Regions from separate parts of the Homo sapiens genome. Here region 1 is linked to region 2. Evidence: fine-mapped expression QTL. Tissue or cell type: monocytes after R848. Region 2 holds a variant in brackets; the other region holds the start of a gene. All regions are shown on one strand. Distances are from middle to middle.

Evidence for each region. PIP is the estimated chance that this variant, and not a neighbour inherited with it, causes the effect.
Region 1: it holds the start of RNF213-AS1, and the variant in region 2 is fine-mapped to the expression of RNF213-AS1 in monocytes after R848 (Quach 2016, PIP 0.95).

Annotation. Positions count from the first base shown.
Region 1 is chr17:80,410,594-80,418,769 of GRCh38, reverse strand. RNF213-AS1 (RNF213 antisense RNA 1) reads left to right here and starts at 3,602. Exons shown (of 2, transcript NR_029376.1): 1 at 3,602-3,841. It overlaps ENDOV (endonuclease V), which reads right to left and starts at 3,603. Exons shown (of 10, transcript NM_173627.5): 1 at 3,520-3,603; 2 at 2,949-3,120. The coding sequence starts at 3,575. RefSeq lists an enhancer at 3,081-3,170.
Region 2 is chr17:80,357,852-80,366,027 of GRCh38, reverse strand. It overlaps RNF213 (ring finger protein 213), which reads right to left. Exons shown (of 68, transcript NM_001256071.3): 37 at 7,549-7,740; 38 at 5,822-5,967; 39 at 4,140-4,294; 40 at 2,714-2,926; 41 at 2,238-2,419; 42 at 1,475-1,595. All of the region lies in intron 1 of RNF213-AS1 (RNF213 antisense RNA 1), which reads left to right. Among named protein-coding and RNA genes, the nearest start is that of ENDOV, 53 kb to the left of the region's middle. The variant C/T (reference allele first, on the strand shown) is at 4,628.

The DNA of each region.
Region 1 (8,176 bases), 53 kb before region 2:
ACTTTAGAACATTTTCCTTAACCCCTAAATAAACCTCATCCTCATCAGCAGTCACTTCCCATCCATCCCACCCCAACTCCAAGGCCCAAGGATCCACTTTCTGTCTCTGTGGATGTGCCTACGGAATCTGTTTCTCAACACACTTCTGGGTGATTCTGCTCCTGCAGGTCCACGGTCGGGCATTCAGGAACCAGTGGACCAGACTGTTCCAAGATCCTTTCCTAGTCTAAGCTTTCATAGCCGGAACAATGAATACCGACGAAGTAGCAGGTGCTTTGCTTGGTGCTGGGGTTGTAAAAGAAATATGGTACACCCTACTCTTGAGAACCTACAGTCAGTGGGAAAAATGGAATCATAAATGACTAACTTTAATACAATGTGAGAAGCGCTCTAACAGCATGTGCATTCAAAAGAGGCCCAGGATGCAGATGAGGTGATTAATTTGCAGCCAGGAGAAGTTGGAGGGGGAAGGGAATGCTGTGTTAACTGCTTTCCATGCATTTCATGTACTGCTCATCACAATTCTGTGAGCTGGATATTAATACCACTATCATCCTCAAGTCAGAAAAAAGGAGACAGAGGCCTAGAGGGCAAAGTGGGGAGTGGCAGAGTTGGGTGTGAGCATGAGTAGTCAGGACCCTAAGACTGTGTCCCCACTCCCTATGCTAGCCTACACAATGGCCAGGGGACCTCTTAGAGTAGGGGCTGCTGAATATCCCAATCTTAGCACACAGTAGGCACTCAGTACATTTTTGCTTGATTTGGACTGAAAAGGGCCTCCCAAGTAAAGCACAAAGCCATGGAAGCAGGAAGACGTTTGTCACCTTCGGGAGTCAGCAGAGGAGCAATGCGAGTGACGCCAAGAGGCTTCCGGAGCTGTTGACTCTTATGTGAATCATGAGCCCACTGTCCATTCACACACGTATCTCTTGAAGGAAGAGTCCAGCGTCTTCCTCATGCTATCCATGGTGGGCAAAGCAACATGGTTTCTACCATCATGGAGTTTATATTCCAGTAGGGAAGACAGGCCAGTTCCATCCCAGCAAGACAAGAGGAAGCAGAGGGTTGCTACGGTCTAAATGCTGGTGTCCTCCCCAAATTCCTATGTTGAAATTATAACCCATAGGTGATGGTATTACGAGGTGGGGCCTCTAGGGAGGTGAGTGGATCACCATGTGAGAACACGGTTAAGAAGCTGGCCCTGTGCAACCTGAAAGAGCGCCGTCACCACAACCTGATTGCGCTGGCACCCTGATCTTGAGCCTCCAGCCTCCAGAACTGTGAGAAATAAATTCCTGCTGTGGGTAGGCCACCCAGTCTAAGGTATTCTATTACAGCAGCCCAAACGGACTAAGACATGGTGCTGAGGGACAAGTCCTCGTCTTGTGGGATGAGAGGGAGCTTAGTGGAGGACGTCATGTCTAAACTGAGCCCAAAGAGATGAGTAGTAGTTAGCCAGATGGAAACCCTTCCAGAAGAAACATTACTGCAAAGGTCAGGCCGCCAAATACAGCGTAGCAAACACGTGAGGGACTCACAGTGGGCTGTAGGAGGTGGGAAGAACTGAGAATAGTGGTGAGGGCTGAGCCTCCAGCGTCATATTAAATTACGCAGGGGACAGGTCATGACGGGCCTTGAAGCCATGCCAACCAGAGTGAACTTTATTCACCATGAGGTCATGAGAAGGGCACTTCAATGTTCTAAGAGGACTTGTGGGCTGGGTGTGGTGGTTCCCACCTGTAATCTCAGCACTTGGGGAGGCCAAGGTAGGAGGATCCCTTGAGCCCAGGAGCTGGAGACCACCCTGGGCAACATAGTGAGATCCTGTCTCTACAAAAAATAAAAAAATAAGCCGGGTGTAGTGGCTCACACCTGTGGTCCTAGCTACTCAGGCTAAGGTGGGAGGATCACTTGAGTCCAGGAGGTTGAGATCAGATCTTGACAGTGAGCCAAGATTATGCCACTGCACTTCAGCCTGGGCACAGAGTGGGGGAAGGGGAAAGGAAGGAAAGAGAGACAGAGAGAGGAAGGAAGGGAGGAAGGAAGGAAGGAAGGAAGGGAGGGAGGGAGGGAGGGAGGGGACTTGTTGCTTTTGAGGAAAATACTTGCTTTTTAGGAAAATTGGTCTGCTGGCAGTATGGAAAAGAAACCACTGAGGAGGAACATTTGAGCCAGGGCACCCATGAAAATGCTGCTCAGGAACCCACAGGAGTGATGGTGGCACAGCCAGGGAAGGAGCAGAGGGGAAACAGACAAGGGGACAGATTCCAGCGACATTTAAGAGGCAGAATAAAAGCGAGCTAGTGTGCAACTGGACGCGAGAGGAACGGAGGGGCCCAGGAGGATGCAGATCTCCAGCTTGGGCAACTGGGAGCGTGGTGGACAGGTCACTGAGATGAAGAACCCAAGATAACAATCAGACTTGAAGATAAAGCTCATGAGCTGATTCTTAATAGTCACAGAATTCCCTTAATTTTTGCCTTTTTTTCCCTTCCAAGACTCCCCAGACTTTTTTTTTTTTTTTTTTTTTTTGAGATGGAGTTTCGCTCTTGTTGCCGAGGCTGGAGTGCAATGGCGTGATGTTGGCTCACCGCAACCTCCGCCTCCCGGGTTCAAGCGATTCTCCCGCCTCAGCCTTCCGAGTAGCTGGGATTACAGGTATATGCCACCACACCCGTCTAATTTTGTATTTTTAGTAGAGACCGGGTTTCTCCATGTTGGTCAGGCTGGTCTCGAACTCCCGACCTCAGGTGATTCCCCCGCCTCAGCCTCCCAAAGTGCTGGGATTGCAGGCGTGAGCCACCGCGCCCGGCCAACTCCCCAGACTATTAATGACATCCTACAAAACGAGAAGCCGGGTTCTACGCTTGCACTGCTCCCTGTCCCGGAGACCGCACGCCCGAGCCCACCGAGGGGCCCGCCTCGAGCTCGGCGTCCTCCCAGGTTACCTCGAGCTCAGGGAAGCTGAGCACCACCAGGGAAGCACAAGCGCGGACACTGTCCCCTTTCACGAAGGACACGTCAACGCCCCCGACCCTCTGCAGACCCGAGAAGGCGGGGTCTCGCTGCCACGCCTCGGTGTCCCGGTCTACGACGTGGGCCTTCAGCCGAGCTTGCTCCCTAGGAGGACAGAAGCGTCAAACTTGGTCGGGGTCACACCTCAGACTCTGCCTCCTCCACCCGCGCGGCTGCAGCGGACAGAGCGCCTCTGCCGGGTCTTCTCCCGCTTCAAGGGAAAGCAAGGGACATACCGCCGAGGCCACAGTCCCTAGGAGCCCAGGCGGCGGAGACCCGCGCAAGCGCAGGCCAGACAAACTGGCCGGAAGCGAGAACCGCGCCCACCCCGCGGACTACAATTCCTGAGATCCCTCCGCTTCCGCGCCGGAAACTGGGCTTTGCTTTGGAGTCTCGGGCGGTGGCAGCTCCGATTCCACAGCCTGAAGACTATGAGCTCGGAGGGTCCGCGAAGGGCCGCCCGGCCTCGGCCCCCGCCTCCTGCGCGTCGCCTGACAGCATTACCGTTTCCACAGTGACAGCGTTTCCTCCGGCGGCCCTCCCGCCGCCTCCAGGGCCATGGCTTCGTCCCGGGCACCCCTTCCGCACGTCACTTCCGGAAGCGACTCGCTCTGACGCCGTCCGCCCTCGTTGCCATGGAGACGCTTGCGCTTTCCCGGGCCGCACTTCCCACCCGGGTCTTCAGAAGCCCGTGGCCGCTGGGTGAGCCCCTGCGTGAACGCACACGCACGCACACGGCTTCAGGTTGCCCCGCGGCGCCGCGCGCGATATCGGCTCGGATCCCGGGAGGCCGTCCGCCCCTTTTTCAGCGGATAGCTGAGGCCAGGTAAGTGACCGCGCGAGGACCCGGGAACTCCGTGACGCCCGTCCCGCCTCTGCTGTCCCCGCCGCAAGCGCTGCGCTCTGCACGGCGAGAGGGGCCTCTTGCCCTGTTGAGAGCCGGCGGGCACGGCACTTCTGCGCTTGGAAAAGGGTGGTCCAGCACTGCAGGTCCCACTCCTTGGCCCGGTCAGCGTCCGCCTTTGCTGAACCCCGAAAGGATTCACCAGGTCCAGGACAGCCCGGCAGTTGCCTCAGGAGCACTTACTGAGCGCCTGTCGTTGACGCCCCCACCTCGATGGCAGCTCAGGGGTGCCCTCAAGCTTTTGAGGGCAGGTGTCGTGTATTTAAATTCTTCACAGTTTAGCGGGCTGGACTCACGGGGGTGCTGCAGACTTGGACGGGGTTTCATCTGGGTCGGACCTTGCTGGGCAGAAAGCTTCTCCTACCAGACAAAGTACGGCGACCTTGGGGGGTCTTGGTTCTTACCTCGTGTTCCTCATTGAATGAGTGTTGGTTCAGTGCTCTCGCTGTGCCAGGTGTTGTGCGAAGTACTGTGAGGGAGAATATGTATTTATTTGTGGGGAGCCGACTTTAAACCGGTGGTTGGGAAAGGCCTGAGAGGCGATATTGAAGACACCTGAAGGGTGAGTGAAAGAGCACGGCGGGTGAGTGGAGCAGCTTTCTCGTGCAGGTCCCGGGGTGGGAAAGAGGTTGGTGTATTTGAAGCACTGAAAGGCAGCCACTGAAGCTGAAGTGTAGCAGTTTAACCCATGGTTTTATATTCTCCTGGGAGGATTCAGAAGGGTGTATGTGTGTATGTATATATAATAGCCTGAATATAAACGTCAAGGGTGTTAGGTTTTGAAGGGAAGGTGAAGGTTAAAGAATGACGCACAGTGAGATTGCCGGCGCGCGGGCGGCTCTACAGCAACACAGGTGTATTGCAAACACCTGTCGGGGGCCAGCTTAATGCCAGAGCCCACCAGCGATTACAGGCTGGGGTACTCATAGGCCTGGGCAGGAGGGATCTAGGCAGTATGGCTTGCTGTCCGGGAAGATGTTAACGTGTTCCCAGGATGAGGTGGTTCCGGCAGAATGTGGTGTTCCTGGCGCTTTGTCCCAGCAGAATATGTTAAGAGGCAGGCTGTTTCTCATGGCTCGAACCCCCGTGGAATGTTTCACTTTGACCAAGGTCTACAAAATGGAAAGGGGCTTACAAAATGACGCAGTTTGGACTAACAAAGGGGAAAATACAGAGGATGAAATTAGACTCTAGAGGTTGAGGCTCAGGAAAGGCTTCATACAGCTTTGGGAACTGACAAGGCTTTGAAAGCAGGGTCAGTTTTCAGCGAATGAGCGTCACCCACTGCACCCTGCGCACCCTGCTCCCCTGCTGCGGTGTCTTTCCCACCAGAGTGTAGCAGGACAAGCCGCAGACAAAACCCCTCAGACACCGAGTTAAAGAAGGGCTTTATTCAGCTGGGAGCTTCGGCAAGACTCACGTCTCCAACAACCGAGCTCCCCGAGTGAGCAATTCCTGTCCCTTTTAAGGGCTCACAACTCTTCAGGGGTCTGCGTGAGAGGGTCGTGATTGATTGAGCAAGCAGGGGGTACGTGACTGGGGGCTGCATGCACCCGTAATTAGAACGGAACAGAACAGGACAGGGATTTTCACGGTGCTTTTCTATATAACGTCTGTAATCTATAGATAGCATCACTGATTAGGTCAGGCGTCGATCTTTAACTACCAGGCCCAGGGTGTGGTGCAGGCTGTCTGCTTGTGGATTTCATTTCTGCCTTTTAGTTTTTACTTCTCTCTTTGGAGGCAGAAATTGGGCGTAAAACAATATGAGGGGTGGTCTCCCTTATTCTCCCTCTCTGAGAATCTCACTCAGTAGTGGGAGTTGTCACTTTTATTTTTACTACCTATGTTTTCTTGCAAGACAGATCGATAGTGATTCATATAGTACAGTTGTGCTGAAGCATTTTGGTGAACTAAGGTAGCGATGAAGCTTTTTATCATTTGAAGAAGTATGGGTAGCAAACAAGGGAGCAGAACGCAGGTTTCTATTGCTATTGTAACTCCTAATATAAGAGTTTTAAATCTTTTTAGTGCTGGGAACCATTTTCCAAACATGGCCCCAGGACCAAATCCATGCCACACTTGCACGGGCACATGTGCCAGTTTTGTCATATTTCTAACTGTGTCTTCAACTAATTGCCCTCGATCATCTATGTGTAGACAGCAATTAGTAAGGTTAAATTTTTTACAGACCTCTCCTTCAGCTGCTAGCAAGTAGTCGAGAGCCAATCTATTTTGATAGATAGCATTTCTCATCTGAGTTTCTTGCCAGGCCAGAATAGTCAAGGCTCTGCCGGTCTTATTAGTGATTATTTCTAAGACAGCTTGTAACCGTATGATTCGGTTGAGCATGTAAATGGGGGTCGGGTATCCCTAGGAGCCATCTTGTGCCTAAGTACCAGGCCCATAATATTGTATGATTCTTTCAGGGGGCCATGTATTATCTTTTGAATTTTTTATAGCTATGCTTCTCTTTTTGCGGGAAGCACAGACAGGGAAGCCCAGGAGTTCGCCTGTCTTTATGGGCAGTAGGAAGAAAGATGGTTTAATAGTGCCAATAACATGACTACCTGCCCACTGGTCGGGTAATTTGGTGTAAACTCTATGCCTACATATCCAGTATAATCCAGTGGGGGCTGTCCAGTCCCTGTGGGACTCCGGGTGGGTTCACACAGTTTGCAACTTTGGGAATTTACTAAATGGATTTTTCTTAGTGTGGTTTGAACTCCACTAGGTGGCTGTTTTTGTAGTAGTATTATACAGTTTTTGCCTAAGCAGCTGAGTCTTCCCACAGGAAAGGTGAAGTCCTTCCCCACTCTTGCTATATACAGTATTGTCTAATGATTGAGGCTTTTAGGACCCAGAAGTTATCAGGGTGATTCTTTTGAGCCGGGAATTCATCAGGAACTGGGTCTGTAGGTACTAATTCTCGGGCTTCCCGTGGCCATTGATCTCCCATTACAGTTCGTCCACACACATAACATGAAGTGACATTGAGAGACTGGGCCACATGCTCGGCTAATTGCAAAAACAAATGTCTTGTTTTTCCTGGAATTTCTGGTGCAGGCACATTCAGTTGATCATAGAAGGTTTGAAATACTGTCTCAGGAGAGCGTTTATAAATTTCTCCTCAAACCATGATATTTACTCAAGGATCCAGTTCAGCCCCATTGATTCCTAGGGTTACATGCTCCCCTTTTTTCCAGCGAGGATCAAGGGGGTTGGTTATTACTAGTTCTAAGGGGTTACACTGACCACTGGTACAGGAAGGGCCACTTTTTCCTTTTTGAAGGTGGACAGGATCCTTTTTATTTTTTATTTAAGTAGCCTAAATGACACAAGACCAGTATTTACATTTATTTCCACACAGTTTTAATTTATGACAAATGTACTTATTTTTTGTCATATGGCCTCTTTTCTAATTAAGGGAACCACATTCTATTTTTAACTTATTACTATTAATGACAGCACAGGCATCAAACTTTAAAGTGACTTGTTTGGGCACCCCTTTTTCTTTCATTTTGGCTAACACTTTACTCGTATCGTTTATGAGTCCCTACCAGTCCTCAGTCCTTAATCTTATTTCAAAAGCTGTGGTCATGGGAGACTCAGGTCATAACACACATCAGGTTGGTCATTTCTTGGGCTACATACCTTGCATAGAATAGCATTATACAAACTTTTTTTTTTTTTAGAGTCCTGGTACACTTACAATAATCATAAAATAATAGGACTGTGGCAACTTTTTGTCCTACCTCAGTGACTTGATGTATACACTGGGAACAGTCCTCAGTCTGAGGAAGGTCAGTTGAAGTCCTTACTGTACAAGTCCAAATTTTAAGGAAAATGAGTCCCACGATGAGTTTTCTCATGCTTCGGCCGTGTGTGGACCAGTCAGCTTCCAGTTGTGACTGGAGCAGGGCTTGTCGTCTTCCTCAGAGTCACTTTGCAGGGGCTGGCGAAGCTGCTTCCGTCCACGTACCACTCACAGCCTACTGATGTTCAAGGATGGTCTCGGAGGTTGCGCCTGCTAGAATAAACTGAGTCCAACACCTCTACACAGTTATGTTCAACTGGGCTCTCTCATATCAGGAGCAAGGTGGCGGGGTTTAGCGTGTTGCAAACTGCAGTGGTTATGTGGGGATTTTCACGTAGCAAGCTTTGGTACTTGGTTAATCTAGCATTTGTTAACCAGTGATGACCTTTGGTAGTCATTAAAGTTACCACAGCGTGGGGGGCCTTTATATTCAGGTTTTG
Region 2 (8,176 bases):
TGGCTGTGGTTACCTGCACAGAGATCTGACTGGAAGGAAATAAACCAGAAACCCAGTAAGTTTCTGAGGCCATTTTATCGCCAAAAAAAACCCTCCCCACGTTCCTAACCTCCCAAATCCTGTGGGCATGTGAGCAGGCAGGGGCCAGCTCCTTTACCTTTGGGTTTATGGGCACCTGGCCCTTATGACCCACGCTGGACCTGGCTGAAAGCCCTGTGCATCTCCCAGAGCGCCGAGACATGATGAGACTTGGAGAGGCTGCATGCTGTGTGGGTGTGGGGAAAAGGGTGGAAGGGGGGCACCGGCTGTGTCCTACTATCCTCTCTCCGCCTTTTCCTTCAGCAGAAGAACTCAAGTTCCACCTGGAACATGACCATGCCACGAAAAACTCCTCAGTTTCTTGCAACCAGATAAGGCCGAGTGCCTAAGTTTAGGACCACGAGACACGAGCTGGTGTGGCGTGTGCGTGTCCGGGATTGGGCTCTTAAGGAAAACGGCCTGTCCTCTACCTCCCCTGCTTTCTGTCCCACAGGCTGTGACGCCAGGCCACGGGGTGGAAGCTGAACATTAGGGACAATGAAGGGACAAGACGGAGCGTGGGCACCTGACTCCGTGCCAGCCTCCGGGGAGCTGGTACCTTAGCCTTGGGCTGCTCATACCCATCCTGGGTGGGAAATCAGCTGATACTGTGTCTAAGCCGCTGATGTTTTGATAGGTCAGAGTCAACACATCCAGCATCCATGCTGGCCTCCTTTTAGTAAACCTTCCTGTGCTCCAAAGGTCGGACAGCCAGCGCTGCCTCTTCCAGACCCCCTGGCGGTGAGGGCTCTGGATGTGCTCACGTGAAGGTCACGGGTGCGGGTGAGGCAGAGGCTGAGGCTGTGTTTGGCTGAGTGGCCACTGTTGCTGGACACCACTGCGTGGCCACAGAGGGGCATCACTGTAGGGTCACAGGTTTCTTTCTGCAGACCACCCCACATTAGTAGCTTTATGAAGGGTGTTGAGTGACAGGCATGGTGGCTTCCTGTTCCTTGGTTCTGTTGACAGCACTGTTTTGAAGACCCCAAACCCCGGTGGCATTCTCTGACATCCTTGTCTCCATGACTATGAAAATGGTAACAGCTTCCACAGATGGCCAGGCTAGTGGTCTGTTCTGGGGTCACTCCAAAGGCCAGGTAATCCCTGCCGAAGGTTTCACAAGCATGTTCCCTGCGTCAGCCCCTTTCTGCACACAGTTCCTGGAATCACTTCTAAATGATATGCTCTGACTTAGCAATCAGCAGAGGGTAAATAATTAAACAATTAAACATGGAAAATGTAATGGCCTAGTGATGAAATCACCTTCCTTTGCATGTCTAGACAAAACGGTCAGAGCCAAAAGAGCGTCTCCCAGCCGCAGATCACTGTCAGTGCTGTTCTTCCTTTCGGAAAAGGGTGGATCCGTGCATGTGCTGAGGCCAGCCCAAGTACTCACCTTGTCTAGTAAGAAGACGTGCTCGGTCACCAGCCCCTGTAACTCGGGGACGCGGCTCTCGGTTCCTAGGAGCACGTGCTCCACGAAGAGTGCGGTGGAGAAAATCCGACTCCACTGGGCTCTGTCAAAAGAGGGCGCCACTCACTCACTCACTCGGCTCCCACCAAGGAACCCAAGGGTGAAACGAGGAGGGAGACGGGAGAAGAGATGCGGGACCCGGGGTCCAGGCCCAGCGGCTGGGATTACAAGCAAGCCCTATGTGACATACTTCCTGGCCCGCCCCCAGCTCTCGCTCTCAGACGCTCAGCTTAGCTGGGACTCGGTGTCCCACTGTGATGCCTCTGCATGGGGTACCACCACAACCCGCTCACTGCATGATCCTGCGCCTGTCAAGTCCCACCTCACCTTTAGGGAAGTGGACTCTGGCCCTGAGGGCCTGTCCTGCTCTGTGCACCTGCCCGCCCGGGGTGTCCTTTCTACCACAGCATTTCTCACACGGCATCACAATAGCCCGTCTGCCTTTCTACGGCCCCAGTACACAGTGCGCTCCCTGAATGCACAGCCGCCTCTCGTGTCTCCAGCACCCTAATGAGACGCCTGGCACTCACTAAGGGTTCGGCAAATGCGGAGTGAACGGGTGAGGACGGAGCCCCTCCCATGGCAGGAGCACCTGCCCGTCTTCTCATGGACATGCCTGGCACTTGGCAGGCTCCTGGTGAGCGCGCGCCAGATGAAGCAGTGGGTGAGGGCTCCTGGGTCTCACCTGACTTCCCTGATGACAGCCTGGGCCAGGCTCCCGCTGCCTTGCATGTGCTCATCGGAGCAGATGAGCTCCAGCGGCATGGAAAGATTCTTCACCAACTGTAGCCACGCCTGGGGACTGGGCTTCAGGGTGTTTCTTGTCAGCATCTCCGTGCAGGCCATTGCGGCAAATGCGTCCAGGGTCTGGGGAGACGGACAGCAGGGCGTGGCTGAGCGGTGCCCCTCCCACCGGCCCACCAGAGGCCCCGGCTGTTAGCTGCATGTATACTTGTGTCCCAGGCTTGCGACCTAAACTTTCATTGTCTAGGATGTGAGAAGCGTCAGCGAGATGTGTCCTTAACATCTCTGAATTCAGCTAAGGTATGTGCCTTGTGAAGAAATCTCCCACTTGGAACACAGCCCCAGAAGCTCTCCATTCCCAGAGTGGAGTTGGAAGCACCACAAGGCTTGCTCAGGGCAGGCGGAGGAGGGCCATACCATCTCACATCCAGCCAGCTCATGGTTCCAACGGGCTTCCATCAGGCTGTGGAGAACCTGAGGGTAGATGGTCAGGATTCTGGAAAAGTTCTGCAGACGGCTTCTGAAACGCTGGTAGGCAAGGTGCACCCACGGTAAGGAAACCTCTTCCTCGGGCGCTTCTGACGCCGCTTTCAGTTTCCTAGTGCAGGACCACAGAGCCATCTGCAGAAACTGGGATTCAAAAAAGCTTTTAGAATATATTTTTAAATTACAAAAATGGTATGTTTTCCCCGTGGGAAATCCGAACTATTGGAAAACCATAAAAGAGGAAATTAGAAACCATGTGTGCTATTCTGTCCCGTTTGCTTCTGTCCAGTTTTCTATCTGCCTCTCCTCCCACGTTAAGGTCACCGTGTCGTCTGGGCTTTTTGCCACTGAACATGACATCATGAACTTTCCCTATGACTGAGTATACTTGAAAAACATGGTTTTAATGGCTGCTCAATAACCCATCATACGGCCATACTTTAATTTGCCCATCCTGTATTTCCGGACAATTAAACTATTTCTTATTTTTCGAAGCAAAGCTGAAAAGGACATCCCTGTGAACCAAATATTTGTCCACATCTCCAGTAGTTTCCTCAGGACAGAGTCAGCAGTTCAGATCGGATAAGGTGCTCAACTGTTCTGCCACGCAGCCCTGCAGGGCGCCCACTGTGCACGCTACACTGTCAGCCGCGTGGCCTGGCTATTTCTTTGCAGCACTGGCCGGCGGCTGTTGTTTTTAAAAATCAGCTTTGCAAAATGAATACGTAAACATGATATCTAAAAACTGTTGTGTTGATTTGCTATTAATAGTAAGGCTAAGCAATTTTTCAAATGTTTCCTGGATGTTGATATGCTTAATGAGATTATAAAATTGTTGTTTTATAACGTTTACCCATTTTTTAAAACTTAGGGTATTTTCTTATTGATTCCTAAGAATATTAACCTCTAGTCATATTAGCTGTAAGGATGTTCTTAAATTTGTCACTCTCCTTTTTTATGTACTGAAGTTTAAAATTTTTAGGTAGTCAAAAGTATGACTTTCTATTGAATTTCACTTGTTTATTCTTACCCTGTAGGGTTAGTTACGTATTTAATTTTTTTCAAGAGAAACTCAACATTTAAAAAGAAGCTATGTCAAGGAAATTGGAGGTCTTCTCATGTTCACAGAAAGCTCCGTGTTTTAGGAGCCCCTGGGCGGTGGACTGAGGGTGTAGCACTGAATATTGAGAGGAGACTGGGCGACCCCTTCACCCACCGGCACCCTTCGCTGACCATGTTCTGTTCCCAGACTTCACAGCACCAGCTCCAGGCAGCTGAGGAAACGTCTCCGTGTCTGCATCCAGTCCCCATCATGCAAGCTCTACACCTGACCCTTAGCCAGTATCTAAACATCTACCTTTAATTCCTCCTCCGTTGACACACGCATGGTCAAGAGAATGAAATCCTTCAAGTAACACTGAAGAAGTTCCTGCTGCGGCTCTCCATGGAGCTGGGCAAGAAACCTGCCCAGAGGAGTCTGCTGAAAGATGTCCACGAACTTCTTGGGCAGTCCTGCAGAGAGGAAACCAAGGAGCGGCCTGGAGTGCGTCTAAGTCATGGCGCTCCCCTGCCTCCAGGGGGCTCCGGAGTGAAGGGGAATGGGGACGCCTTGTTGAATGGGAGCTCGTAGACAAAGGGGTACCAACTGCCTGATTTTGTAGGGAATTGAAGGAATAGTCACTGTCTAGACATTTAGGATATTTTTCTTTTTCCTTTTTTTTGGAGATGGAGTCTTACTCTGTTGCCCAGGCTGGAGTGCGGTGGGTAGCGTGATCTCTGCTCACTGCAACCTCCGCCTCCCAGGTTCAAGTGATTCTCCTGCCTCAGCCTACCAAGTAGCTGGGA[C/T]TACAGGCATGCACCACCACACCCAGCTAATTTTTTGTATTTTTAGTAGAGACGGGGTTTCACCATGTTGGTCAGGCTGGTCTCGAACTCCTGACCTCAGGTGATCTGCCGGCCTTGGCCTCCCAAGGTGTTGTGAACCACTGCGCCTGGCCTAGGATATTTTTCCAGTGGAATAAAATAAAGGAAGGCGGAAACAGTGTCAAATTTAGGTCAGAAACAGCCAAGCTAGCCCCAAAGAGAAACATCTAGATAAGACTGAGTTGTATGTTGCATGGCTACATTGTATGTTGCATGGCTACAGGTCACAGCATGCTTCAGGAACCCCCGGGTCCAAGTAAATTAGGAACAAGTGGGCTGCTCTTCAGGGGCTGGGGGTCACAGAGCATGCAAGCCAGAAAGATCTGGCTTCTAGTGGGCGGGGTGCAGCCCCTAATTCGCATGCTGTCATAGAAAAGCAGGGTCAGTTGGGGTATTGTCCTGAGAAAGGAATATGCTCATGAGGAGAGAGACTGCTTTGAGAAAAAGTGGCAGAATGGTAACCTAGAAAAGAAGGCCACCCTGAGTCTTCCAAATGGTACGATAAGTAAACGTGGAAAAGACTATTGCATGTATGAAAGATGGCTTTTGTAAAAGTGTTGCGTTGTCGTTGGTTTTTCTGGACTAGGGCAAATCTTCTGGCATCTGGCAGCAGAGCTCAGCACTGTGTCTGGGCTGTGACTCGGGAGACACAGCTGGGAGGTGCCTCCTGATGGGGCACCTGGGAGTAGGGGATGCTCCAGGCGCTCGTGCCTTCTGAGAACGCCTCTCCTGGGGGCATCTTCCGAGTCCAGTGCCCCAGTCTGAGAAGGCCCAGAATGGGAATGACCAGCTGATAGAGGCGACAGTCCTCCTCTTGCCAGAACACACCCCATTTCGCCATATCCCTGGCCATCACGGCACTAAAAACCATCTCACAGGCTCCTGCTGCCATAGGATCGAAAGGTTTCTGGTCCCGCCGGGGCCTCTCACTCCTTCAGCAGAAACTTTAAAATGACGCGGTGACGTAAATTGGACGCTTACTGCACAAACAAAGTGTGAAAACTAAAAACTCCAAAATTCACCTTGCAATTCTAGCCACCCATCTGCTTTTCACTGTCAGGCAATCCCTTTGTGATTCACCTGTGCTGAATCTGACCTGTCTTGAGGTAGCCTCACCTTCTGCGTCTGTGATGTACTGAGCCTGGACCCACAGCTCCTCCAGATAGTCCTTGATTTTCCAGCTGAAAGGGACGTTGTTGGAAGCGTTCTCGGAAAGGTTCATGTGGTTCTGCACCACGATGTAGGCCATCTCACCTTTATGTCTGCAATAAGGTGAGGGATGATAAGAAGAGGGTTTGTGAGACGTCACTCAAAACACAAGATAAGATCTGCCACTGATGCCAGCTCTTCTCAGACCTCAAAAACAAAGGGGCCAACAGGCCAGGCAGACGGCGCTGATCTGTTTCACAGTACAGGGTTTCTGTTATGACAGAACTAGGGAACTGTCTTATGCAATCTTTGTTTCACAGGCAAAACAAAAACAAACCAAGGCTGACAGGGGTCAAGTGTGTTGCCCAAAATCTCGGGCAGAACCAAGTCTTCTGGTTCCTGAACCTGTCTGGCTTTGATAACTTGTAACACAGAGCACAACTTGTTAGAGTCTTTGCTTCATGAACATCAGCAGCGCCTTGTCTTTTAAATAAGTGTTTCCACTGGCAATTCAAATTCCATTTCTTTCTTTCTCTCACTCTTTCTTTCTTTACTTTCTTTCTCTCTTTCTCTCGCTCTTTCTTTCTCTTTCTTCCTTCTGTCTCCCTCCCTCTCTCACTCTTTTTTTTTTTTTTTTTTTTTTTTTTTTGAGATAGAGTCTCACTCTGTCACCACCCAGGCTAGAGTGCAGTGAGTGGTGTGATCCTATCTCACCTCAAACTCCTGGGCTCAAGCAATCCTCCCGCCTCAGCTTCTAGAGTAGCTGGGACTACAGGTGCGCACCACGTTATGCCTAATTTTTAAATTTTTTGTAGTGATGGGGTCTCACTATGTTGCCCAAGCTGGTCTTCAACCCCTGGGTTCAAGAAACTTTCCTGCCTCAGCCTACTAAATTGCTGGGGTTATAGGCATGAGCCACCGAGCCTGGGCACATTTATTTCTATATTCTTTATAAATCTACATCCAGAATTGAAGCCCCTGAAAGCTGAAGTGGAAGCTATTGGGAGCTGAGCCTGAGCCGCACATCATCAGGCCTGCGGAAGGGGGTGGGGGCTGTGCCGCTCCACCAGGGAATGAGGGACGGGGAGGGAGCACAGATCCCAGGGGTAAGGAGCACAGATTGTGGGGCTGTTCGCAGCGCACTGTCTCCGTGTCACGCCATGCTGGGTCTGGCTAGAACCAGTGCTCTGAAAGCAGGGAAATGAGGAGGGTGGAGATAAAACAGAAATTTCTCAGAGCTTCGTAAACTTCCTATTCTTTTTTTTTGAGACAGAGTCTTGCTCTGTCACCAGGCTGGAGTGCAGTGGCGCCATCTCGGCTCACTGCAACCTCCGCCTCCCAGGTTCAAGCAATTCTCCTGCCTCAGCCTCCCAAATAGCTGGGAATACAGGCACGCGCCACCACGCCCAGCTAATTTTTGTATTTTTAGTAGAGACGGGGTTTCACCACGTTGGCCAGGACGGTCTTGATCTCTTGACCTCATGATCCACCTGCCTCGGCCTCCCAAAGTGCTGGGATTACAGGCGTGAGCCACCATGCCCGGCCAAACTTCCTATTGTTACTGCAGAAAGCACCCATGTCAACGTTGCTCTGAAGTTGAGGGCTGCGTTTCACCCAGCACTTGGGAGAGCATATTAGGGTCCTGCTGTGTTCTGATAGTTTCTCTCCCCAGGGAAAGAAAGCCTTCCACTCACCTTTCATTATTCATCACAAGAGGAATGTTCAGAAGCATCGTGTCACTGAAAATAAACATCCAAAGATCTCTTGCCCAGGGCGGAGTATCTGGCCTGGTCAGTAACTCTAGGTTGCCGTCTCTGTCGATGAATGATATCATGCTCGCCAGCAGAGGGGTGACAGCACCTTGGACCCGCTTCCAGAGGGTGTGCCTGCAGCACAGAAGAGAGATGGGCCACCACGGGTCAGAGGAACCAGAGTGGCGGTCTGCCACCTTTTGACATTTTGTTCCTTCTTGAGCATTAACAAAACAACTAGTCTACTATTTACCACACTACAGCGACAGCAATAACTTGACATTTCCATCATTTTTAAGTCCTAGAAAACAGACTCACAAAGATGTCTAAGATTAGAGACGGAACTGGAATGGAACTTAATTCTACATCTAATAAACTGTCATTAGGTTACTGGAAGGGTGAAGTAGTGTTTGCTTTTTTATTTTTAAAACATGTATGTGAGGGTCTCACTCTGTCACGCCAACTGCGGTGTAGTGACACAATCATAGATCGTCATAACCTGGAATACCTGGGCTCAAACGATCCTCCCACCTCAGCCGTGCAAGTAGACAGGAACAACACACCCAGTGCC